4 linked regions of the Homo sapiens genome follow. The protein of the gene in region 1 interacts with the protein of each later gene in a biochemical or structural test. Each region holds a gene or a part of one and is shown in the gene's direction. Other genes may lie near its edges. The genes, in order: NCK2, EFNB1, PKD1 and ERBB3.

Region 1 (6,907 bases):
CTCTCTACTGTTCTTTTCTAAAAGTACCCACTTATCGCGAGCACAAATTGCAAAGAGATGAGGTGTAAGAATTACCTAAAGGAATGAATAATGGAAGAGGTAGTCAAAATTAGAAATTTTTAAGTCTGCACGTTTGTTGAACACCAGATACTCTGAGCCCGGTGTGGGGATGTGGAGCTAAATAGGGTTCTTGCACTTAGTTGTATTCAAACACAGAATCTAAAGCCTAAACAAAAATAATGATGATAGAGGCCCCGAGAGAGGTTGGTTTTCCGCCAACCTATTAATTGTCCTTAGATTCCACTTGGAAAATGACTTCTGAAAAGAAGGGTCAAATGAATGGGTTGTACTAATTGTTCATTCTCCAGAACCATTGATTCAAAAACTATGAGAATGGAAAAATCATTCCTTATAAGGAGTACTCATAGAAGGACATAACAGGAAGAAGTGGTCTGATGTTTGAAAATTTGAAGAATTTGCCCAGTAGTCAGCACAGAGAAATTACTATATACCAAGTAAGTACAGTGTTTGGAGATGGAAAGTGTAGGAAATGCGGACAGTGGGAGGTAGCACAAAGGTGGCAATTAAAGAGGAGAAATCAAAGGGGAGATGTTTCAAAACCCGGGGACTGAGTCTAGTTAGGTTTTAGTCCAATCATAGAAAATTGTAATGAGTGTCCTGTCCATCTATGATGGCTTAAAAAGATGTCCATAAATTCTTTGGTACTCTTTGCTTCAGAAGGTGGAGCCTGACCCTCTTCCCTTCAGCATGGGCTGCACTGAGCAACTCACTTCTAATGACCAAGATGTGGCAGAAGCGATGGAGGGCAGCTTCCGAGATGGGCATTGTGGCTGCCTCTTTGCTCTCTCTTGGGTCACTTGATCTAGGGTGAGCCAGCTGTCATGTTGAGAGTACATTCAGGCAGCCCTACAGAGCCCCCTAGGGGTTCATGTGAGCAGACTGCCTTGGAAGTAGAGCCTGCATCCCCAGTCTAGCCTTCAGATGACTGCAGCCTCAGCCAGCATCCTGACTGCATGTTTCAAAAATGTGTTAAGATTCTTTGACAAGCTTAAATGTAGAGTACTCTACCATACTATCAGTACTCTAGTACTTGTTGAGGAGCAAGTGTGGCATGGTCCTTTTTCATCCAATTTCTTGAAATCTGTTCTAGAAAGCCAACCGTGGAAGGACTGCAACAGATGAGAATAGGACTGATGGAGTTGCTTTCATGGGAATCATTCCCTGGCTCCCTCTGGAGGCAGAGTTGTTTTGGGTCGGGAGTAACTCCATCTCCATCAGATGCAGGGACTGGTGGCTCACTTTGAAAGGAGGAGACCATACAGCAGTGTCCCAGCTGTCCCTTCAGGGGAAATTCCCTATGAGAGATGTCTGGAGCAGAGCCAGAGTCCTCAGGACAGAATTGGAAAAGTATCCACAGACTGGAGCTCCCTCCATCATGGGCTGCTTTGCCCATAAATGGCATTCCCATCTTTTTCTGGTGACCAAACATTTGTTGGTGGCTCCAGCACTGCCGATGTTTGTTCCAGATTTTCTTTCTTCCAGTTCTCAAACTGCATCAGAGTCCCCTGAAGGGCTTATTAAAACACACGGTGCTGGAGGTTAAAACACAGATGGCTGGGCTCCACCCCAGAATTTCTGCTACAGCAGGGTTGAGGCAGAGCCTGAGAATTTGCATTTCTTTTTTTTTTTTTTTTTTTTTAATTATTTTGAGATAGGGTCTCACTCTGTCATCTAGGCTGGAGTGCAGTGGCCCTGTCATACCTCACTGTTGCCTTGACCTCCCGGGCTCAAGTGATCCTCCCACCCTGGCCTCCCAAGTAGCTGGGACCACAGGTATGCATCACCACACCTGGCTAATTATTTTAAATTTTATGTAGAGATAGGGTCCCACTATGTTGCCCAGGCTGATCTCAAAGTCCTGGCCTCAAGTAATCCTGCCACCATGGCATCCCAAAGGGCAGGGATTACAGGTGTGAGCTTCCATGGCTGGCCCTTGAGAATATGCTTCCTAACCAGTTCTCAGAGGATGCTCATGCTGCTGGTCTTGAGAGCACACTTGGAGAACATCTTAACTAGTTCATCTTCACACTTCACTTAGAGGTGTTCAGTGGTCATATGTAACGGTGTATGTTAGTATACAGATTGTTCTTTTTCAGATTTCCTACAGAAAATCTACTTAGTTTAAATTAAAGAACACTCCCCAACTTTTAGCACTCCTGCTTGGCATAAATTGGTTCTACATCCTTAACTTTTAAAGGTTTCTGCTCAGGAGCCCACGAAATTAAAAATTACCTCTTCTGCTGCGAAAATTTTATTGCTGCAACTCATGCATGCATACAGGCACACACACACCATGATGTTAAATTAAGGAGCTTGAATTAAAAGCAAATTTCCCTTATGTAGAAAGTCATCTGTTGATCATTTGGCTTAATTAAAATTGGGTGTATCTTACATCTACCATGATTCACTCCCATACTGCCTCCACTAAAAATGATGCCACATTATCTCTAAATTGAGCCTGGCTTATAGTAAACTCTATAAGTGAGACTGCCCTTCATCTTTTCCTAAAGATACAACTTCTAGTACAGAATATTAATCATCTATAGGCTGAGGCCTAATCTGAGATTAACCTTCTGGTTTCTTCCTGGAGTTTCATCCAGGAGTATGCCCTGGGCCTCACATGGGGATGAGATGGGGCTTTTCGCCTCAAAGGTTTGTTCTTATTTGGTCTATTTGAGACAGAGGCATGCATAAATACAAACTATACTTACAATTGTTCCTTTCATTCTTTTCTGTTAACAGCTATGGCTGCTGGGTGAGCCCAGCTGCCTTGCACAATTTGAGTCTTCTCAGACACTCATTCCCCTGAGTTGTCATTGGTAGAAATGGAGTGATTCCTTGTTTTGCAAGGGTTGCACACTTCTCATCAAACATTTATTTGGGCTTTTGTGAACTCTGTAATAGACAATGGCCTAGTCCTTTGTTAACTGTCTGGAGGTCCTGCTGGGAGGTCGCAGAGCAGGGCTGAGCTGCTGGACCCTCAGAGCAGGAAGTTTCTGGGCTTTGAGAAAAGCAGAAAACTGGTCTGGGAATTCCAGGAAGAATTTCGGATGTTAGGCTGTGGTCCTGCCACTGGCCAGGCATGTCCGAGGTACCAGCCCTGCCTCGGAGAGCACATGCTCAGCTCCACATTGTCCAGAGGGCTCTCCTGCCCCCACACGCACTTATACATTCACACAGATGAACTCACACGCTACGCATACTCTCACACACTCTCAATACTCACATACTCCCTCTCACATCTGCGCACGCTCACACACTTAGAGCTGCGGTATCTCATGCTCCTCTTTCATGCAACTCTTTTTTTTGTTTGTTTTCTTTTTTTTTTTCATAGAACTTACTGCCCTGTGCAGCCATCTGTACACCTCTATTTATCTGTTCCCCACACCAGATTGTCACAGAGCATATGTCCTGCATGCACACACATGTATCCAGGGCACCGCCTGCCTGGCATGTGTTAGTAACTAATTGTTATTCATTTAATGAATTGATCAAAACTTGATATTTTTGTACAAAGAACATTTATCGTTCAGTATCTTCTTTCCTGCATGCTTTTCAGCAAATGAGATAAAAGACCAATTTTTTTTTTTTTTTTTTTTTTTTTTTTTTTTTTTTGAGATTTTTCGCTCTTGTTGCCCAGACCAGAGTGCAGTGGCGTGATCTCAGCTTACAACTTCCACCTCCCAGGTTCAAGCGATTCTCCTGCCTCAGCCTCCCAAGTAGCTGGGATTACAGGCACACTACCACCATGCCTGGCTAATTTTGTATTTTTTAGCAGAGATGAGGTTTCACCATGTTGGCCAGGCTGGTCTCAAAGTCCTGACCACAGGTGATCCACCTGCCTTGGCCTCCCAAAGTGCTGAGATTACAGGCGTGAGCTACTGCACCTGGCCAATAAAAGACACATTTTAATTAAAATAATGACATGTTTCTAAAATATTCTGAAATAGAAGGCACATCACAGAATTTAAATATTTTTCAATAAAATCTGTAATCAAACCATAGTTCAGCTTCCTCTGGGATATTGTGAACTATGTTTAAAATGCGACCGGAATTTTCCACTGCTGTTCATATTTTTAAATGCTTAGAATTAGAAAAATTAGCCAGGCATGGTGGCACATCGGGAGGCTGAGGCAGGAGAATCTGCTTGAACCTGGGAGGCGCAGGTTGCAGTGAGCCAAGATCACACCATTGCACTCTAGCCTGGGCAACAAAAGCAAAACTGCGTCTCAAAAAAAAAAAGAATTAGAAAAATTTTGATGTCTTAATTTCTAATAGGGTTAGACATCAGAAGTAGTAAAATTTCTAGCTACTGCCTGCATGCAAACCACTCTTAATAAATTCCCAGTTTATCAAAAAATAGTTTGGGAAATGAAAAACAGCAAATTTCTTGAGCAGTCAGGGCAACACTGTATATTCCATAGTGAAGTGCTGTATATTCCATAATGAGTTTGCACTTTTCAAATAACTAAAACGCATTTAGCACTGAAACTGGGCTAAGCAGAATTTATTTTTTCTTTGGTTCAGAATTTCAGAATCGTGGACTACCTCCAGGTCTTTCTGAACATCAGATGCCGTTCTAGATATAAAACAGAGACCCGGCTGGGCGTGGTGGCTCATGCCTGTAATCCGAGCAATTTGGAAGGCTGAGGCTGGGAGGGGGGTGGGGATCACCTGAGGTCAGAAGTTCAAGACCAGCCTGGCCAACATGGCGAAACCCTGTCTCTACTAAAAATACAAATATTAGCCGGGCATGGTGGCAGGTTCCTGTAATCCCAGGTACTCGGGAGGCCGAGACAGGAGAATCGCTTGAACCCGTGAGGCGGAGGTTGCAGTGAGCCGAGATTGGGCCACTACACTACAGCCTGGGCAAAAGAGTGAAACTCCATCTCAAAAAAAAAAAAAAAAGCAGAGACCCAGTGTTTGAGCAATGGGTGGTTTGGATTTAGACGCACAAGAGATGTGGATGGATTTAGACACAGCTCCCCGCTGTGGCCCGGCTGTAACTGTGTTCTGTTTCCTCCCCAGCCCAGCGACTTCTCCGTGTCCCTTAAAGCGTCAGGGAAGAACAAACACTTCAAGGTGCAGCTCGTGGACAATGTCTACTGCATTGGGCAGCGGCGCTTCCACACCATGGACGAGCTGGTGGAACACTACAAAAAGGCGCCCATCTTCACCAGCGAGCACGGGGAGAAGCTCTACCTCGTCAGGGCCCTGCAGTGACGGCGCCCCGGCCCCACACTCGCCTCCCGGGCCCCACGGTGGAGCTGCCCGCCCGGCCTTGTGGCAGAGGCTCCTCCCGCGGGGACGGCCCCGACGGCTTCTCTGCGAGTCTCTCTTTATGTTCAGGTCGCTTGGTCGGTTCGTCTCCCATTTGCCATCCAGGCCTCACACCCACACTCGAGCCCACCCGGCCGGCCAGCTTTAGAGGAGGGGAGGAGCAGGGCGAGTTCACATTATTCCTTTTCCATCGGAAGTGGCGCTCGTGCATTCAACTCGTTCCCGCTCATGGAACCCCTCTTTAAAAAGACGCAGGGCACCTGTGAGCGCAGGAGCGAGCCTAAGGCCACCCAGCGGCAGCGCCCGTGTCCTGGGCACTCAGCGTGCTGGGCAGAGCAGGTGCGATGGCCCCAGTCCTAGCAGCCCTCGCCCATGTCCTGTGCCCTTACATGGCTCCCGGACTGTGCAGGGAGCCGATACGTTTGCTGATAGCAATACTGGAACCACCGGGTGCGATGGCAGTGAGGAGACTGCCCAGTGCCTTTGGGGCTGTGCTTGCAATAAAGAATTTCCTGGAAAGGCAGTCTGCAAAAGAGGGAACCGGTGACTCAGAAAGACAGATGTTTTGGTAATTTACCCCAAATGTGCCATCCACATAGTGCTTTTTCCTCTTGCCCTTCGGCTTGTTTGAATCTCACAATTATGTATTTAATTCTCAAAGAAATATGTATCTGTAGCCGTTTGTTGACACTAATACAGATGATTAAGGAAAACAGCTGATCTTTGGGGAAGGGAGCTACCAACACTTTATACACACACACACGTGCACACACACACACACACACACTATATATATATATATTATTTACAGGGAAATTTTTCAGGGTTTACAAAAGAGTATGTGATTGGTAGTAAGAGACACACAGAATGTTTATGAAGAAATTGCATTTTCTTTTTCCTTTACATTTGAACTTCTTTATAGTTTAAATATAACGTCTTGAGATGGCACATTCCTACGATTGAAGAAGGGGTCTTGAGATCCCCTAAACTTGCATACCCAGTTTTTTGGATATTGTAATAAAAAAAAGTATTATGACAAGGCTCTGTGTGTATTTATCTTTGGGAAAACTCAGACTCAATCATGGGAGAGTAATTACTGAAGCATTCACTCATTGCGGAGTGGAAATCATTTTTAGAGAAGAGCTTAACATTTATTACTTGTGTGTTTTCATTTTCTACCCCCACATTTTTGTATATTGAAATAATGAGTTTTAATTAGTGAAACCCCAAGGGAACCCAGAATCTCAAGCTTGGTCTGAACTTTGCTCTTTGGAAAATATTTGTTTAGAAATATGTTGCTGAACTCTTGGCAGCCAGCGCTCTCACACCATGTGTCCCCCACGACTAACTCTCGATTTGTCCTCTTGATCGGGAGCATTTATATTGATGTGCCAGGCCCTGGGGGTGCAGAGTCACATGACTTGGCATTTGTGCCCTCCTAGGCCAATCACGTATCAAGCGCTCCCTCTGCACCATGCACTGCGCCCCCATTTGTTCCTCATCACAGCCCCATGAGGTGGGACCTGCTATCATCCCCATTTTATAG
Region 2 (3,640 bases), on another chromosome or scaffold:
CCCTTTGAAGACTGGCATGTTCTCCTCTTAGCCTGGCCTTGGAATTCTCGCCCCAACATTTACCAAGCTCACCTTGGCTCCAGGGGTTGGGCAGGAGAGGTCTCCAATTCGTGTTGCTTCTCTCTTATTTTCTTTGCCCACCTAAGTTCTAATATTGGGAATGGTAACATATGCCAGGCCCTTTGGGATCAGCCAGCTATTCAGCCTTTTTCTTCAGGGGAAACCAAGGCCCCAAAAGGTGAAGGGACTTCTTGCCTTAGATCACACAGTGAGTTAGAGATAGGGTCAGGACTCCAACCCAGTTCTCCTGATTCCTACTCCAGAATTCCTTTCAGTCTATGTAGAAGCCCCCATTATGATCCCAGTGAGGAGGCAGACCTTACCGAGGGGCCATGGCCTGCTCGTGACAGAGGAGCAGTGCCCCTGGGGGTGGGGCTTGTTCTTGGCCTGGGCTGGACTAGGCCATTTTGTTCCTAGTGGGAGGGAAGAAAATGAAAAGGTTCACTGGTAGATGGGAGCTGCTTGCTTCTCCCGACTGCAGTTTCTCTCCCTGTTGGCTGAAGCAGAATGGGAGTTTCTGGGTAATGCTAGTAGACCTTTCTCTCCTCCTGACTTCTCTGACTTCTCTGGCCTCTTCCTGCAGCAACATCCAATGGAAGCCTGGAGGGGCTGGAAAACCGGGAGGGCGGTGTGTGCCGCACACGCACCATGAAGATCATCATGAAGGTTGGGCAAGGTGAGTGCCTAGTCTGAGGGTCCCCTCACCCCACCCTGTTTGACCTTTGGAACAGATGTTCCTGGCTGGGTGCATGTGTATTAGGAGTGGGGGAGCAGGCGTAGGGTTACAGTATCCAGGCCATTCTTGGCCCACCCTTGATGACTGAGGGCACCTATGCTGGCCGGGTCCCTGCCTCTCACCTGTTCTGTCTCCATTCTTAGATCCCAATGCTGTGACGCCTGAGCAGCTGACTACCAGCAGGCCCAGCAAGGAGGCAGACAACACTGTCAAGATGGCCACACAGGCCCCTGGTAGTCGGGGCTCCCTGGGTGACTCTGATGGCAAGCATGGTAAGTGTATGTGTTTCCCAGAGGTCAGGAGCCATTGCTCTGTCACCTTGTTAGGCCCTGTCCCTGAAGAAATGCAAGCTGGGCCTGGCCTGAAATCTGCTGTGTGTCCCTGGGACCCCTGGCTGACTGTTCCTTCCCCTTTCCCTTCCTCAGAGACTGTGAACCAGGAAGAGAAGAGTGGCCCAGGTGCAAGTGGGGGCAGCAGCGGGGACCCTGATGGCTTCTTCAACTCCAAGGTGGCATTGTTCGCGGCTGTCGGTGCCGGTTGCGTCATCTTCCTGCTCATCATCATCTTCCTGACGGTCCTACTACTGAAGCTACGCAAGCGGCACCGCAAGCACACACAGCAGCGGGCGGCTGCCCTCTCGCTCAGTACCCTGGCCAGTCCCAAGGGGGGCAGTGGCACAGCGGGCACCGAGCCCAGCGACATCATCATTCCCTTACGGACTACAGAGAACAACTACTGCCCCCACTATGAGAAGGTGAGTGGGGACTACGGGCACCCTGTCTACATCGTCCAAGAGATGCCGCCCCAGAGCCCGGCGAACATCTACTACAAGGTCTGAGTGCCCGGCACGGCCTCAGGCCCCCGAGGGACAGTCGGCCTGGACCGGACCTCTCCTTTCGCCCCCACACCCCCTCCCCTTGCCAGCTGTGCCCACCTTTGTATTTAGTTTTGTAGTTTCTTGGCTTTTATAATCCCCCTTTTTCCCTGCCCCCTGGGCTTCGGAGGGGGGTGCTTGTGCCCCTAACCCCCATGCTCTTGTGCCTTCCCCCTCTGGCCAGGCCTCTGGGCTCCGTGGGGGCGCCCCTTCTTGGAAGGCAGGGCTGGACACTGATGGACAGCAGGCAGGGAGACAGTCCCCTGGCCCTGCCCCTCCCTCGCCCCCCTTGCCACCTTCCCAGGACTGCTTGTCCGCTATCATCACTGTTTTTAATGCTTTTGTGTTCATTTTTTAGCTGTCAACTCATTTTCATCTGTTTTTTGAAGAAAAATGGAAAAATGTAAAAGGCAGCCCCTCCCCAGGCTTTGTGAGCCTGGCCCAAGCCAGTACAAGAGGGCCTGGGGCACGATGTGGTCAGCCAGGAAGCATAGGATGCCATTTCTTTTATAGATTCCTTGGTATTTCTGGTGGGGTAAGGGGCAGGCCAGGGCTGTTCACGCCCATGAGGGAAGAGGAAAGTGCCACTGGGCAAGGTGTCCCACCCTCCCCTCCTGACCCTCCTACGAGGCTTATCCTGGCAATGGGGTAGTCACTGCCACCCTTCCACACACACACACACACACACACACACAAAAAAAAATCCCTTCCTTGTGGGATTCTTGGGCATCTCCTGCCTCCCTCACTCTCACGGTAATTAATGTCTTAATTGGCTGTTGCCTGGGGAACAGGAGAGCTGCTGCAGGCAGATGACCTCATGGGGGGTGGAGGGAGGTGAGGTGCCCAGGTGGCTATTTGCCCTGCAGAGCTGGGAGTTTCACCCCCACCCCCCACCCTGTTCTCTCCTTACCTTTGGCATCCTTTGGCCTGGTGGGGAAACAGAGGCCCAGGGTGGAGACCTAAGCGGGTATAAGACCAGGTGGCCTGCTCCTTTTCTGGGCCCTAGCACAGGTGGGTAACCCCCACCCAACCCAGCTCCTGCTGCTGTCCCAGTCTTGGGCTGGGGCCTGGAAAGAGGAAGAGGCTGCCTGGGGCTGGGCCAGCCCGCTGTGCACTTTGACCCCAGTTCCTTGCCAGCACGGCTGCTAACAGACTGCCACTTGAGTGCGCCTTGCAGGCACTCCCAGAGCAGCCATGGAAGGAGCTGGCCCTCACACCATCCACCTCCACACTGCCTCCTGGCCAGCTGCCCACCCCAGTGCCAGGTGGGAGAGGGAGCAGAACAGCCAGCCCCTTCCAGGTGGCAGTCGGAAGGGTTTTTGTTTTTGTTTCTGTTGCCATTTGTGTAAATACTAGTCTTTTTGGAAAAAAAATAATGTAAAGATGTTTTGTATAAACTCTGAATTATTTTCTTGTTGCTTTTTTCTTAGAAAAAAATGAGAACTAAAAAAAAAAAATTAACCACATGGAGAAATGGGTGTAAAATGGTGTCGTGATGTTGGGAAATGGAGAGTGAGAGTTGTGTGCGTGCGTGTGTGGTGGGGGTGTGTGTGTGTGCGCTTTCCTGTGCTCAAACCACTGGTGACTGGGGCAGGTACGGGCAGATGATGGCTATCCTAGTGGAGCAAGATGTTTTAATGCCCTATGACCCTCCTGCCACTCCCCTCACCCCAGGTTTTTCTGCTCTCTTGTTCTGCTGTCATGGAGCCTGAGACCATTTCCCCTGTTCATCCTGTCACCTCTGTGGCATAGGCCACGGGCATCTGCCCAGTCTGGCACAGGCCCAGTTAGAGAGGGTTAATGGAGGAGGGGATGTTCCCATGGGGACCTGGGTGTGTCCACAAAGTACTGCCACCACCTAGCTGGGGCTAGATCTGGGACCTGCTGGCAGGCCCAGCCCTGCCCTGCCTCAGGACGCCTGGAGGTGGATAGAAATAACTTCCCAAGATCTGAACTTCAGCTGCAGCCTA
Region 3 (6,909 bases), on another chromosome or scaffold:
GTTTGTATTTTTTGTAGAAATGGGGTCTCTTGGCTGGGCGCGGTGGCTCACACCTGTAATCCCAGCACTTTGGGAGGCCAAGGCGGGTGGATCACGAGGTCAGGAGATCGAGACCATCCTGGCTAACACGGTGAAACTCTGTCTCTACTAAAAATACAAAAAATTCTCCGGGCGTGGTGGCGGGCGCCTGTAGTCCCATCTACTCGGGAGGCGAGGCAGGAGAACGGCGTGCGCCCGGGAGGCGGAGCTTGCAGTGAGCCGAAATCGCGCCACTGCACTCCAGCCTGGGTGGCAGAGCGAGACTCCGTCTCAAAAAAAGAAAAAACAACAAACAAAAAAAAAGAAATGGGGTCTCTCTGTGTTGTCCAGGCTGGCCTCAGTGATCCTCCTTCCTTGGCCTCCCAAAGTTCTGGGATTACAGGCATGAACCACTGTGTCCAGACAAAAATTGATCTGTAAACTTTTTGAGACAGCATCTCACCCTGTTCCCCAGGCTGGAGTGCAGTGGTGTGATCATGGCTCACTGCAGCGTCAACCTCCTGGGTCTACTTGATCCTTCTTCGAGGGAAGGTGTAATAAACCCTCCTGCAATGTCTTTGTTTTTCAAAATCTTTGTATTTCACAGTTTAGCTTCGTGGGTTGATGTTCTATTTTGTTTTTGTGTGTGTGTGTGTGTGTTTTGTGTTTTTTTTTGAGACACAGTCTTGCTCTTGTTGCCCAGGCTGGAGTGCAATGGTGTGATCTTGGCTCACTGCAACTTCCACCTCTTGGGTTCAAGAGATTCTCCTGCCTCAGCCTTCCGAGTAGCTAGGATTACAGGCGCCGCCACCACACCCCGCTAATTTTGTATTTTTAGTAGAGATGGGGTTTCTCCATATTGGTCAGGCTGGTCTCAAACTCCCGACCTCAGGTGATCCGCCCACCTCAGCCTCCCAAAATGCTGGGATTACAGGCGTGAGTCACCGCACCTGGCCAATGTTCTATTTTTGAGAACACAACAGTTCATAATATATTCTACATAGACCATACCTGTTATGTGTAGATAAACAGACTCTTTTCCCATTTAACACCTTTTGCCTTAGGTTTATTTTTCTGGTATCAATACTGGCACACTTACTTTGTTTGCAGTTTCCTGTCTTTTTTTTTTTTTTTTTTTTTTTTGAGACAGAGTCTCACTCTGTCACCCAGGCTGGAGTGAAGTGGCGGGATCTCGGCTCACTGCAACCTCTACCTCCTGGGTTCATGCGATTCTCCTGCCTCAGCTTCCCGAATAGCTGAGACCACAACTGTGTGCCACCATGCCCAGCCAATTTTTGTATTTTTAGTAGACACGGGGTTTCACCATACTGGCCAGGATGGCTCAATCTCTTGACCTCGTGATCCACCTGCCTCCGCCTCCCAAAGTGCTGGGATTACAGGCATGAGCCACTGTGCCTGGCCTTTTTTTTTCTTTTTGAGATGGAGTCTCACTCTGTCACCCAGGCTGGAGTGCAGTGGGGTAACCTCAGGTCACTGCGACCTCCGCCTCCCGGGTTCCAGTGATTCTCCTGCCTCAGCCTCCCGAGTAGCTGGGATTACAGGCACCCACCACCATGCCTGGCTAATTTTTGTATTTTTAGTAGAGACGGGGTTTTGCCACGTTGGCCAGGTTGGTCTCGAACTCTTGGCCTCATGTGACCCGCCTGCCTTGGCCTCCCAAAGTGCTGGGATTACAGGTGTGAGCCACTGTGCCTGGCCTGGCTTTCTTGTTTCTTTTCTCCTCTTCTAGTTTCCCCCTTTTAGGCTAACAATTATTCACTGTTAATAAAAACCCTCAGGTCTGTATTTTATCAAGAAACATTTCCCTCACGTCTTCTTCCCTGAACCAAACAAGATCTCTGGCACATTTTATTTGCTCTGTCTCACCACATGGATTTTGTTTTTTTGTTTCTTTGTTTTTTGAGATGGAGTCTCACTCTTGTTGCCCAGGCTGGAGTGCCATGGCACAATCTCAGCTCACTGCAACCTCCACCTCCTGGGTTCAAGCGATTCTCCTGTCTCAGCCTCCTGAGTAGCTGGGATTACAGGCGCGTGGCACCACCCCCAGCTAATTTTTGTATTTTTAGTAGAGACGGGGTTTCACCATGTTGGTCAGGCTGGTCTCGAACTCCTGACCTTGTGATCTGCCCACCTTGGCCTCCCAAAGTGCTGGGATTACAGGCATGAGCCACCACGCCCGGCCCCCATGGTTTTTCAAATAGTTTAGAATTTCATTTCCAGGTAACTAATTTGCTTCTTTAAACATATGTCTTTTCTATTTAAGAAATCCTTTCTAAACAATTGCATTTTATTCCACAACCGCCTTCAAACAATCATTGAGACTTGGTTAATCTGTTTTGCTCATTTGGCAGCAGTTTCTTGTGGCTGTTTCTTCCCTCCACTGGAGTCCTTGAATCTTAAGTCTGTCATTTGACTGCAATTAAAAGCTGGGTTTGGAATACAATCGCAGCCTTACCATCCACCTGCTGTGTGACCTGGTAAATTTCTTTTTTTTTTTTTGAGACGGAGTCTTGCTCTGTTGCCCAGGCTGGAGTGCAGTGGCACAACCTCTGCCTCCCAGGTTCAAGCGATTCTATTGCCTCAGGCTCCCTAGTAGCTGGGATTATAGGTGCCTGCCACCATGCCCAGCTGATTTTTGTATTTTTAGTAGAGATGAGGTTTCACCATGTTGGCTAGGCTGGTCTCGAACTTCTGATCTTGTGATCTGCCCGCCTCGGCCTCCCAAAGTGCTGGGATTACAGGCATGAGCCACCACTCCCAGCCAGTTCTTTTTTTCTTTTTTCCATTTTTTTTTTTTTCGAGACAGGATCTTACTCTTTTGCCCAGGCGGGAGTGCAGTGGCACAATCACGGCTCAGCGCAGCCACTGCCTACTGGGCTCACACGCTCCTCCGGCCTCAGCCTCTCGAGTACCTGGGACTACAAGCGTGAGCCAGTTTGGCTAATTTTGGCTAATTTTTGTAGAAACGGGGTCTCGCCATGTTGGCCAGGCTGGTCTCCAACTCCTGGACTCAAGGGATCCACCTTCCTCCCCCTCTCAAAGTTCTGGGATTACCGGAGTGAGCCACTGTGCCCTGCTGGCAAATTTCTTAAACTGTCTGTGCCTCAGTGACCTCATTTAATAAAGGGAATAATTGTAGCACACTTTTTCTAGAGCTGTGAAGATTCAATGGAATAAATAAGGCAATAAATGAATGGATGGGGAATGAAGGATGTGGGTTTCCTCCCTCTTGTCTTTCAATAAGCTCTCACCATCAACCTCCCATTGCCTGTTCTCTCTCTTCCCCCTCTCTCCCTCTGTCTCTCTCTCAGCCAGGAAACCTGGGGTAGGGAGGCTTGGAGCCAGCGGGTGCGTCGGGAGGCTGCGGGTACTGACTCGGGCCGCGCACGGAGATTGCGGGAGAAGGATCCACACCGCGGAAGAAGGATCAGGGTGGAGCCTGTGGCTGCTGCAGGAGGAGGAACCCGCCGCCTGGCCCACACCACAGGAGAAGGGCGGAGCCAGATGGCACCCTGCCCACCGCTTCCCGCCCACGCACTTTAGCCTGCAGCGGGGCGGAGCGTGAAAAATAGCTCGTGCGCCTCGGCCGACTCTGCAGTGCGACGGGCGGAGCTTCCAGACGCTCCGCCCCACGTCGCATGCGCCCCGGGAACGCGTGGGGCGGAGCTTCCGGAGGCCCCGCCCTGCTGCCGACCCTGTGGAGCGGAGGGTGAAGCCTCCGGATGCCAGTCCCTCATCGCTGGCCCGGTCGCGCTGTGGCGAAGGGGGCGGAGCCTGCACCCGCCCCGCCCCCCCTCGCCCCGTCCGCCCCGCGCCGCGCGGGGAGGAGGAGGAGGAGCCGCGGCGGGGCCCGCACTGCAGCGCCAGCGTCCGAGCGGGCGGCCGAGCTCCCGGAGCGGCCTGGCCCCGAGCCCCGAGCGGGCGTCGCTCAGCAGCAGGTCGCGGCCGCAGCCCCATCCAGCCCCGCGCCCGCCATGCCGTCCGCGGGCCCCGCCTGAGCTGCGGCCTCCGCGCGCGGGCGGGCCTGGGGACGGCGGGGCCATGCGCGCGCTGCCCTAACGATGCCGCCCGCCGCGCCCGCCCGCCTGGCGCTGGCCCTGGGCCTGGGCCTGTGGCTCGGGGCGCTGGCGGGGGGCCCCGGGCGCGGCTGCGGGCCCTGCGAGCCCCCCTGCCTCTGCGGCCCAGCGCCCGGCGCCGCCTGCCGCGTCAACTGCTCGGGCCGCGGGCTGCGGACGCTCGGTCCCGCGCTGCGCATCCCCGCGGACGCCACAGCGCTGTGAGTAGCGGGCCCAGCGGCACCCGGGAGAGGCCGCGGGACGGGCGGGCGTGGGCGCGTTCCCTGGCCCGGGACGGGAAGCAGGACGCGGGCCAGGACGCTCCCAGGGCGAGGCTCCGGCGCGGCACGGCGGCCCTGCTAAATAAGGAACGCCTGGAGCCGCGGTTGGCACGGCCCCGGGGAGCCGAAAAACCCCGGGTCTGGAGACAGACGTCCCACCCGGGGGCTCTGCAGACGCCAGCGGGGGCGGGGCGCGGAGGCCGCGCTCAGCTGGGAGGACAAACAGTCGCTAATTGGAGAGGAATTGGGATGCGGCCTGGGGCTGCGGGGTACCCGGAGAGGTGGGGATGGCTGTAGGGGGCGGCAGGGAAGAGTTCCAGGAGGTGTCTGGAAAAGGATTTGATGGATGTGCAAGAATTGGGCTGATGCTTAGGAAGGGGCGATGAGGTGGGTCCAGAAGAAGGGGGGTGAACGGTGTGAGCAAAGACCGTGAGGCTGGAGGCTGGCCACGGGAGGTGTGAGGGGTAGGGGCAGGGTGGGAGGTGGGCTCGCGGGTGGGCTGGGGTCATGAAGGGCCTCAGGCGCTCTGCTATTGGGTTCCAAGGCTATCCTGAGAACAGGGGTGAGGGGGGATTGCCGTGGGGGGTTAAAGCCTTGTCATGTTCGCTTTCGGGAGATAAAAACAACAGGTGGCCTTTATGGAGACGCTGCCCAGAGCCAGGTCTGTGCCAGGCTCCTGTTGGGGGTCGTCATGCGGAATCCTGACTCTGACCATCCGAGGCATAGGGACCGTGGAGATTTGCATTTCACAGATGAGGAAACAGGTTTGGAGAGGTGACACGACCTGTCCCAGGCATCACAGCCGGGATGTGCATAGCAGGGGTTTGGAACTATGAGGTGCCCAGGACCCAGGGTTGGATTGAAAAGGGCGGAGGGGACTAAGATAAGCAGACAGTTGTCCCCAGCGCTGGGGAGAGTCTTGGGACCAGTCTGATGCCTTGTATTTCCCAGGCTCCAGGCTCCTCGCCGGGACAGTGTCTCCTTGGGTGCGTGCTGGATCCCTGGGGGACGTGGCACATCCCCAGGCTTGCTAAACATTGGGTGGGTTCTGGCATTTGGTTTTGTAACGTTTCTGGGTCACTCCCGCCTGTGGCCACCCTTCCTTAGGGGAGCCGTGTGTCCTTGGGGCTTTGCTGGGTGGTCTCGAGGGTGGGAGAAGAATGGGTTCTCCTGGACCAATGGAGCCCGTGCCCCTCGGGGCCACATTGCTCCTGCGCTCCCTGACTGCGGACGCGTGTGTCTCGCGGCTGTCTCTGTGGAGATGGCCTCCTCCTGCCTGGCAACAGCACCCACAGAATTGCATCAGACCTACCCCACCCGTTGTTTGTGATGCTGTAGCTGAGGGCTCCTCTGTCTGCCAGGCCGGTCACTGGGGACTCTGTCCAGGGCCTGGTGGTTCCTGCTTCCCAGCACCTGATGGTGTCCATGAGAGCAGCCCCTCAGGAGCTGTCCGGGAGAGAAGGGCGCTGGTGGCTGCTGAGCGGAGAGCAAGGCCCGTGTTCTCCAGGCCCTTGGCACAGCAGTGGAGCCCCCGCCCCTGCCTTGTGTTGTCCTCTTAGGCTCTGGTCCTGGGGTTTGGAGGAGGGGGACCCTGGGAGTTGGTGGCCTGTCCCAGCCTGAGCTGGCAAGATTCCGAATGCCAGGCCCCCCAAGTGTGCAACAGGGCACAGGGTGACCTCATGTGGGCAGGTGGGTGCTGTTCTGTACACACCTGGGGCCGCCGCTGGGAGAGTTCTGGAAGGTGGGGTGAGGGGACCCATGGCAAACTAGGGCCTTAGGAAGGATGTGAAGGCCCTGGCTGGCCCCCCAGGCCACCCTCTGTGCTGTGGGGCAGCCCAGCCATTTTGCTGTCTACCCTGCAAACTCCTCCTCGGGGAGACGGCTGGGTTTTCCCCAGGGAAGAGGGGTCAAGCTGGGAGAGGTGAAGGACACAGATCACAGCTGCTGGCAGGTGTTCAAGGGTCCAAGAGCGTTGCTGTCTGGGTGTCACCAGTAGCCTTCCTGGGGGGCTCACGCAGGTGCCTCTCCACTTGTGGCTCCCTGGCTGCTGAAGCTCAGCAGGGACAGCTGTGTCCAGTTCCAGGTGGAGGACAGCCGGGGCTTCTGAGGCCACAGCCTGCCTTGGGTTAATGATGCTGCCGAGAGGTGGTGGCTTTTGGAAAAGATGGCGTACTGCAAAACGTGCTGCTCTGCGTGGCTCGAAGCTTCGTGGGGAGACGTGGGCAGAGCCGTGGCTGACTCACAGACCCCCCACCCCAGAGCCTGCCCTGCCCTCCCTGCCCCGACCCTTCTCCCTCCTGACCCATGTGTTTTTTTTTTTTTTTTTTTTTTTTGAGACAGAGTTCACTCTTGTTGCCAAGGCTGGAGTGCAATGGCACGATCTCGGCTCATGGCAACCTCCGCCTCCTGGGTTCAAGCGCTTTTTCCTGCCTCAGCCTCCCGAGTAGCTGGGATTACAGGCGTGCACCACCATGCCTGGCTAATTTTGTATTTTTAGTAGAGACAGGGTTTCTCCATATTGGTCAGGCTGGTCT
Region 4 (7,046 bases), on another chromosome or scaffold:
GGTGGAGGGGAGTGCTGCTGAGGACGGGGTGTCTAGGGACAGGGTGGGGCAGCCCCCCTCCTGGATAGAATCGCCTCATTGTGGGCTGGACTGTGGCCCCAGGCACTGCCCCCACCCTCTGCCCCCATCCCACCCTCAGTAGACACAATAGGGGCTGTGTACTAGTCCCAAAGAGATATTTATTCCAGGACCTAGAGAGAGGCAGGATGAGGGTAGAGAAGTGAGTGCCCTAGTTGGAGGGGGAGAGGAGGGTAATCAAAGTTGCGGCCTTTTCCTAACTTCTCTTTTCTAGGGAGAGAAACAAATTCCCTGTCTTCCTTCTCAGTTAACCCCTTAGTACCCAAAAGAAGCACAGAGGGGTCCCAGGTTGAAAAAGGAAATCTTTTCACCTTCCCATTCATGGAATGGTAAGGGGATTCTGAGAAGAGAGAAAGCTCTCAGGCCACTACAGCTTCTGCCTATCGCTTGTGGGAGGGTTGGAGGCAAATGCCATCTGATCCTGTCTAATGTAACTGGAAGAGGGCAACCAAGGGGGTGATCTTTGGGGATGGCAGATGGGCTGAGAATTTGTGTCCAGCCCTCAGCCACTCTTCCCTCTGCTTTGAACAGTGTGTCCTGGGACTCTGAATGGCCTGAGTGTGACCGGCGATGCTGAGAACCAATACCAGACACTGTACAAGCTCTACGAGAGGTGTGAGGTGGTGATGGGGAACCTTGAGATTGTGCTCACGGGACACAATGCCGACCTCTCCTTCCTGCAGGTTAGTGAGCCCACCCTCCTTCCTCAACCTGCTCCTCTTTATTCTCCCCTAGAACCCTCCTTCCTTCTTCAGGGCTACCTTCTGCTGGAGTTCACCCTTCCTAAGACTCAGGAGTTCCTAAGATTCAAAACCGTGTATTTATGGGGACAGTGGCTGTCATCTGGGACCTATGGTCTCACTGTTGTAGCCAGGGATATATAGGGGGCAGGGTCAGGGGCAGGTGGTGTTCTGTGGATAGTGCAAGGTCAGCAGGGACTAGTGCAGAGAGAAACCTGAGGACCAAGAGGTTACCTGGGGAGATGAGGAAGGGGCCCTACTGGTATGAGGCACTTTGAGGAGAAAGCTGCCTGTCTTCACTCCCAGAAGTGACACAGCAGTGTGACACAGTCTACTCCCTACTCCCAAATAGGAATTAGCAAGAGTTAAGGCCAGGTGCAGTGGCTCATGCCTGTAATCCCAGCACTTTGGGAGGCCAAGGAAGGCAGATCACTTGAGGTCAGGAGTTCAAGACCAGCCTGGGCAATGTGGTGAAACGCTGTCTCTACAAAAATACAAAAATTAGCTGGGTATGGTGGCATGCACCTGTAGTCCCAGCTACTTGGAGGGCTGAGGTGGGAGGATTGCTTGAGCCCAGGAGTTTGACGCTGCAGTGAGCGAGATTGTGCCACTCGTAACAGAGCGAGACCCTGTCTCACCAAAAAAAAAAAAAAAGGCCAAGCTCGGATCACCTGAGGTCAGGAGTTCGAGACCAGCCTGACCAACATGGAAAAACCACATCTCTACTAAAAATACAAAATTAGCCAGGTGTAGTGGCACATGCCTGTAATCCCAGCTACTTGGGAGGCTGCGGCAGGAGAATTGCTTGAACCCGGGAGGTGGAGGTTGTGGTGAGCCAAGATCGCACTATTGTACTCCAGCCTGGGCAACAAGAGCGTAACTCCGTCTCAAATTTTAAAAAAAAGAAAAAAAGAAAGGAAAGAAAGAAGGAAGAATTAAAACAGTTAAAGAGTCTTTAATGCCTGAAGGAGGAGAGGAGATTGAGATTATTTTGCCCTGTTGTCTCTCTCATTTACATAATCTGCTCTGTCACAGTGGATTCGAGAAGTGACAGGCTATGTCCTCGTGGCCATGAATGAATTCTCTACTCTACCATTGCCCAACCTCCGCGTGGTGCGAGGGACCCAGGTCTACGATGGGAAGTTTGCCATCTTCGTCATGTTGAACTATAACACCAACTCCAGCCACGCTCTGCGCCAGCTCCGCTTGACTCAGCTCACCGGTCAGTTCCCGATGGTTCCTTCTGGCCTCACCCCTCAGCCAGCCCAAGACTGGTACCTCCTTGATGATGACCCAAGACTGCTCACTCTAAGTGCCTCTTCCAAGGTGCCTGTCACCTTGGCCGCTGTCTAAAGGTCCATTGCTCCCTAAGCAATAGAGGGCCCCCAGTAGGGGGAGCTAGGGGCATCTGCTCCAGGGAAAGGAACCCTGTGTCCTTGTGGGGCTGGAGTCAGAGCTGGATCTGTTAACCGTTTTTCTAATTTCAAAGTACAGTGTACCGGAGGCCAGGCCTGATGGCTTACACCTGTAATCCCAGCATTTTGGGAGGCCAAGGAGGGCAGATCACTTGAGATCAGGAGTTTGAGACCAGCCTGGCCAACATGGCGAAACCCTGTCTCTACTAAAAATACAAAAAAATAAAATAAAATAAAAAATTAGCTGGCTATAGTGGTGCGCACCTGTAATCCCAGCTGTTCATGAGGCTGAGGCAGGAGACTCGCTTGAACCTGGGAGGTGGAGGTTGCAGTGAGCTGAGATTGCACCACTGCACTCTAGCGTAAGTGACAGTGAGACTCCGTCTCAAAAAAAAAAAAAAAAAAAAAAAAAAGCCTGGGCGCGGTGGCTCACGCCTGTAATCCCAGCACTTTGGGAGGCCAAGGCAGGTGGATCACAAGGTCAGGAGATCGAGACCATCCTGGCTAACACGGTGAAACCCCGTCTCTACTAAAAATACAAAAAATTAGCCAGGTGTGGTGGCGGGCGCCTGTAGTCCGAGCTACTCGGGAGGCTGAGGCAGGAGAATGGCGTGAACCCGGGAGGCGGAGCTTGCAGTGAGCCAAGATTGCACCACTGCACTCCAGCCTGGGCGACAGAGCGAGACTCCAAAAAAAAAAAAAAAAAAAAAAACCAAAGTACAGTATACCTGGATGTCCCTCCTTCCCTAGGAATTCTACCTTTACTCTCCTAAACCAAACCCCTATGAGCTGGAGGAATATAGGGGTTAAAAACCACCTGTCCATCTTCTGCTTCTCCATGTCCCAGTCAGTTGGAAAACATATGGGCAGGGCTTGGGGGAGGGAATGTTGAGTCAGAAATCTCTCCCTCTCTCCCTTCCCCTCCCCCACTAGCTAAACCGGATCTGGACAGGTGACTGAGGAGGCAGGAGTTTCTTTTGGCCTGACTCCTCATCTTATAAAGGGAGTCTTCTCTGCAGCTTAGATTTAATTGGACCTATCTGTCTGCCTCATTCTCCCACTCCTGAGTCTCAGGTGTCCTTTTGGATGGGTGGAGAGGTAAGGAAGAGGCGTTCCGCTGCGGCCCTTAACCCTGTCACTTCTTTCCCTACCTCAGAGATTCTGTCAGGGGGTGTTTATATTGAGAAGAACGATAAGCTTTGTCACATGGACACAATTGACTGGAGGGACATCGTGAGGGACCGAGATGCTGAGATAGTGGTGAAGGACAATGGCAGAAGCTGTAAGTGGCCGTGATCAAGATTGCTCCCCAGTCCCACCAAACCAGAGTGACTCCCTTCTTTCCATCATCCTTACATTCCTGATCTGAACCCGCCTCCCCAGTGAACAAACACCTCAGGTCCCTGACTCAGCAGCCCACCAGGGCAGACCATTCCAGTCTCCTGGAATCTAAACCACAGAGGAGGTGTTTCAAGAAAAGGAGCAGGCCGAGCATGGTGGCTCATGCCTATAATCCTGGCACTTTGGGAAGCCAAGGTGGGAGGATCGCTTGAGCCCAGGAGTCCAAGACCAGCCTGAGTAACATAGCAAAAAATCTACAAAAAATTAAAAAAATCAGACAGGCGTAGTGGCTCGCACCTGTAATCCCGGCTACTCAGGAGGCTGAGGCAGAGGATTGCTTGAGCCCAGGAGGCTGCAGCTGCAGTGAGCTGTGATTGTGCCATTGTACTCTAGCCTGGGCAACAGAGTGAGACCCTGTCTCAAAAAAAAAAAAAAAAAATCCCTGAGTACTAAGCAGGGAAGCCAGATCTTTAGACTCCACATCTGTTACTCGTTCCACTAGAATATACTCCCATTTCCTTGGAGCCCACCTTCCCCTGACCATTCACATGCATATATTCCTGCATATATTCAGTTTGCCCAGGAGGAACTAAGTTCCTGGGTTGGGACTAGGACTAAGGTTGGCATTTGCCCCAGTCCCTCCCCTTCAGCTGCCCAGTGGGTGGTGTGGAGGCGTGGCCGCGCCCCTTGTTGACAGGTCCACTTGAGCCCAGCCCTGCTCTCCAAGGGCAGGGAGGGACACAGCCCTGGCTTTTTGCTTCCCGGGATTGAGGTGCCTGTGTACTGACATCATACCCCGTTGATTAAAACAAGCCTTTCTTAGCCCTGATGGCCCCTTGTGTTGCCTTCCTTCCCAACCAGGTCCCCCCTGTCATGAGGTTTGCAAGGGGCGATGCTGGGGTCCTGGATCAGAAGACTGCCAGACATGTGGGTTTGAAATTCCCTCCAAAAACTTCACTCATACGCTTTCATATCCCTTCCTCCCCAAGCCTGGGTCAACACTGTGGGGGAGGCATGAGCAGTGGCCTCAGAATTCAGTCCTAGGAGCCCTAACAGCCATGCTTTCTCTCCTTCCATAGTGACCAAGACCATCTGTGCTCCTCAGTGTAATGGTCACTGCTTTGGGCCCAACCCCAACCAGTGCTGCCATGATGAGTGTGCCGGGGGCTGCTCAGGCCCTCAGGACACAGACTGCTTTGTATGTACCCTTTCCATTGCCTGGGTTCTGAAATTGGGATGTGGCCTTTGAGGAGGAGGTAGGGGTACACACGTAACATAAATCTGATGAGCCTCCTTTTTTCCCAGGCCTGCCGGCACTTCAATGACAGTGGAGCCTGTGTACCTCGCTGTCCACAGCCTCTTGTCTACAACAAGCTAACTTTCCAGCTGGAACCCAATCCCCACACCAAGTATCAGTATGGAGGAGTTTGTGTAGCCAGCTGTCCCCGTAAGTGTCTGAGGGGAAGGAACAATGATCAACAATAGTAGATCCAAGATTTTAGACAAAATTGTGGAAGGGAAAAAGAATCCAGTTGGTGATAAATAGGGAGATTGGTGAATGGTTATGATCATCTAACCACTCCAGTGAGTGACCCTTACGTCCAGTCCTCCCATGACTTCAGCTATCACCCTTACTTCTGCTCCTTGTAGCAACAAATAGTGAAGAGACTTTTGAATCTATAGGGCAGCACTTAAGGGATCTAGGGTGGCAGATGGGGACAAATCCAGTGCAGAGCTGGAGGGAGCCTAGGCCCAGAGCAAGGGTTCCATTGGTAGCTGGTGATGTTCCTCCCTCATCTCTAATGGTGTCCTCCTCCTCTTCCCTAGATAACTTTGTGGTGGATCAAACATCCTGTGTCAGGGCCTGTCCTCCTGACAAGATGGAAGTAGATAAAAATGGGCTCAAGATGTGTGAGCCTTGTGGGGGACTATGTCCCAAAGGTGGGTAGGAGATGGTAAGAAGTTGTAAAGAGACAGCCTTTCCTCTGAGCCTGCGCAGACCACCCCCACTGAACCTCTCTTACATTTGCAGCCTGTGAGGGAACAGGCTCTGGGAGCCGCTTCCAGACTGTGGACTCGAGCAACATTGATGGATTTGTGAACTGCACCAAGATCCTGGGCAACCTGGACTTTCTGATCACCGGCCTCAATGGGTTAGAGATCCTGCCTTCCCTCCTTAGACCCCAGCCCACGCACCCCTCACAGTTCATTTCATTGGCCAAAACTTTCCTATGTGGAGCTGACTAGGAATCAAAGTCATAAAATTCTAGCCTGTTACAAAGGACCTGAAAGAATGCTTAACACATCCTCCATCCAGGCCTTCGGTCCCCTCAGGAACATCTTTGAGCAATTCAATATCGCCCTGCCAAGGAACAAGGGACAGGAACAACATATCCTCCTTCTTAAAGTTTTCTTTTTTATTCTTTTTTCTTTTTTGAGATAGGGTCTTGCTCTGTCACCTAGGCTGGAGTGCAGTGGCGTGATCTCGACTCACTGTAGCCTCGACCTCCTGGGCTCAAGTGATCCCAAGTAGCTGGGACTATAGGCACACACCATCATACTTGACTAATTTTTTTGTATTTTTTTGTAGAGACAGGGTCTTGCTATGTTGCCCAGGCTGATCTCGAACTCCTGTGCTCAAGCAATCCTCCCATCTTGGCCTCCCAAAGTGCTAGGGATCACAGCACCCAACCTCCTTCTTAAAGTTTTGTAAAAGTTCTTCCTTAGATTTGGATAAAAATCTGTCTCCAGGCTGGGCCCGGTGGCTCATGCCTATAATCCCAGCACTTTGGGAGGCCGAGGTGGGCGGATTACGAGGTCAGATCGAGACCATCCTGGCTAACATGGTGAAATGCCATCTCTACTAAAAACACAAAAATTAGCTGGGTGTGGTGGTGCACATGCCTGTAATCCCAGCTACTCAGGAGGCTGAGGCACGAGAATCACTTGAACCCAGGAGGCGGAAATTGCAGTGAACCGAGATTACACCACCGCACTCCAGCCTGGCGACAGAGCGAGACTCTTTCTCAAAAAAAAAAAAGAAAAGAAAAGAAAATTCTGTCTCCCCATGACTTTTAGCTGTTTTCACTCATTCTGCTCCTTGGAGCAAAAAGAACAAAGGGACTTTCTAGTCTATAGGACAGCATTTAAAATGTGTGTGTGTGTGTAAAAAAAACCCACTATGACCACCTGTTTTTTTTTTTCCTTTAATTTTTTATTTTGACATAATTTTAGATCTACACTAAAGTTGCAAGAATGGTATAAAATTCCCCATATACTTTTTTTTTTTTTTTAAGACAAAGTCTCACTCTGTTCCCCAGGCTAGAGTGCAGTGGTGCAATCTTGGCTCACTGCAACCTCCGCCTCCTCTGCCTCCCGGGTTCAAGCAATTCTCCTGCCTCAGTCTCCTGAGTAGCTGGAATTATAGGTGTGTGCCATCATGCCCGGCTAATTTTTGTATTTTTAGTAGAGA

What was found.
Region 2: the proteins of NCK2 (region 1) and EFNB1 form a complex in vitro, tested with the Homo sapiens proteins (one study listed by BioGRID).
Region 3: the proteins of NCK2 (region 1) and PKD1 form a complex in vitro, tested with the Homo sapiens proteins (one study listed by BioGRID).
Region 4: the proteins of NCK2 (region 1) and ERBB3 form a complex in vitro, tested with the Homo sapiens proteins (2 studies listed by BioGRID and IntAct, with this or other methods).

Annotation. Positions count from the first base shown.
Region 1 is NC_000002.12:105,887,873-105,894,779, forward strand, and holds the end of NCK2 (cytoplasmic protein NCK2), read left to right. Parts: intron 1-5,109; coding exon 5,110-5,304; 3' UTR 5,305-6,400; downstream 6,401-6,907. UniProt on the Homo sapiens protein: Adapter protein which associates with tyrosine-phosphorylated growth factor receptors or their cellular substrates. Maintains low levels of EIF2S1 phosphorylation by promoting its dephosphorylation by PP1.
Region 2 is NC_000023.11:68,839,021-68,842,660, forward strand, and holds the end of EFNB1 (ephrin-B1 precursor), read left to right. Parts: intron 1-643; coding exon 644-736; intron 737-939; coding exon 940-1,068; intron 1,069-1,221; coding exon 1,222-1,634; 3' UTR 1,635-3,140; downstream 3,141-3,640. UniProt on the Homo sapiens protein: Cell surface transmembrane ligand for Eph receptors, a family of receptor tyrosine kinases which are crucial for migration, repulsion and adhesion during neuronal, vascular and epithelial development.
Region 3 is NC_000016.10:2,132,881-2,139,789, reverse strand, and holds the start of PKD1 (polycystin-1 isoform 1 precursor), read left to right. Parts: upstream 1-3,891; 5' UTR 3,892-4,100; coding exon 4,101-4,315; intron 4,316-4,538; exon of another isoform or gene 4,539-4,757; coding exon of another isoform or gene 4,758-4,762; intron 4,763-6,585; exon of another isoform or gene 6,586-6,671; intron 6,672-6,909. UniProt on the Homo sapiens protein: Component of a heteromeric calcium-permeable ion channel formed by PKD1 and PKD2 that is activated by interaction between PKD1 and a Wnt family member, such as WNT3A and WNT9B. Both PKD1 and PKD2 are required for channel activity.
Region 4 is NC_000012.12:56,083,142-56,090,187, forward strand, and holds part of ERBB3 (receptor tyrosine-protein kinase erbB-3 isoform 1 precursor), read left to right. Parts: intron 1-172; exon of another isoform or gene 173-407; intron 408-609; coding exon 610-761; intron 762-1,853; coding exon 1,854-2,040; coding exon of another isoform or gene 2,041-2,171; exon of another isoform or gene 2,172-2,476; intron 2,477-3,389; coding exon 3,390-3,515; intron 3,516-4,435; coding exon 4,436-4,501; intron 4,502-4,653; coding exon 4,654-4,772; intron 4,773-4,879; coding exon 4,880-5,021; intron 5,022-5,401; coding exon 5,402-5,515; intron 5,516-5,606; coding exon 5,607-5,727; intron 5,728-7,046. UniProt on the Homo sapiens protein: Tyrosine-protein kinase that plays an essential role as cell surface receptor for neuregulins.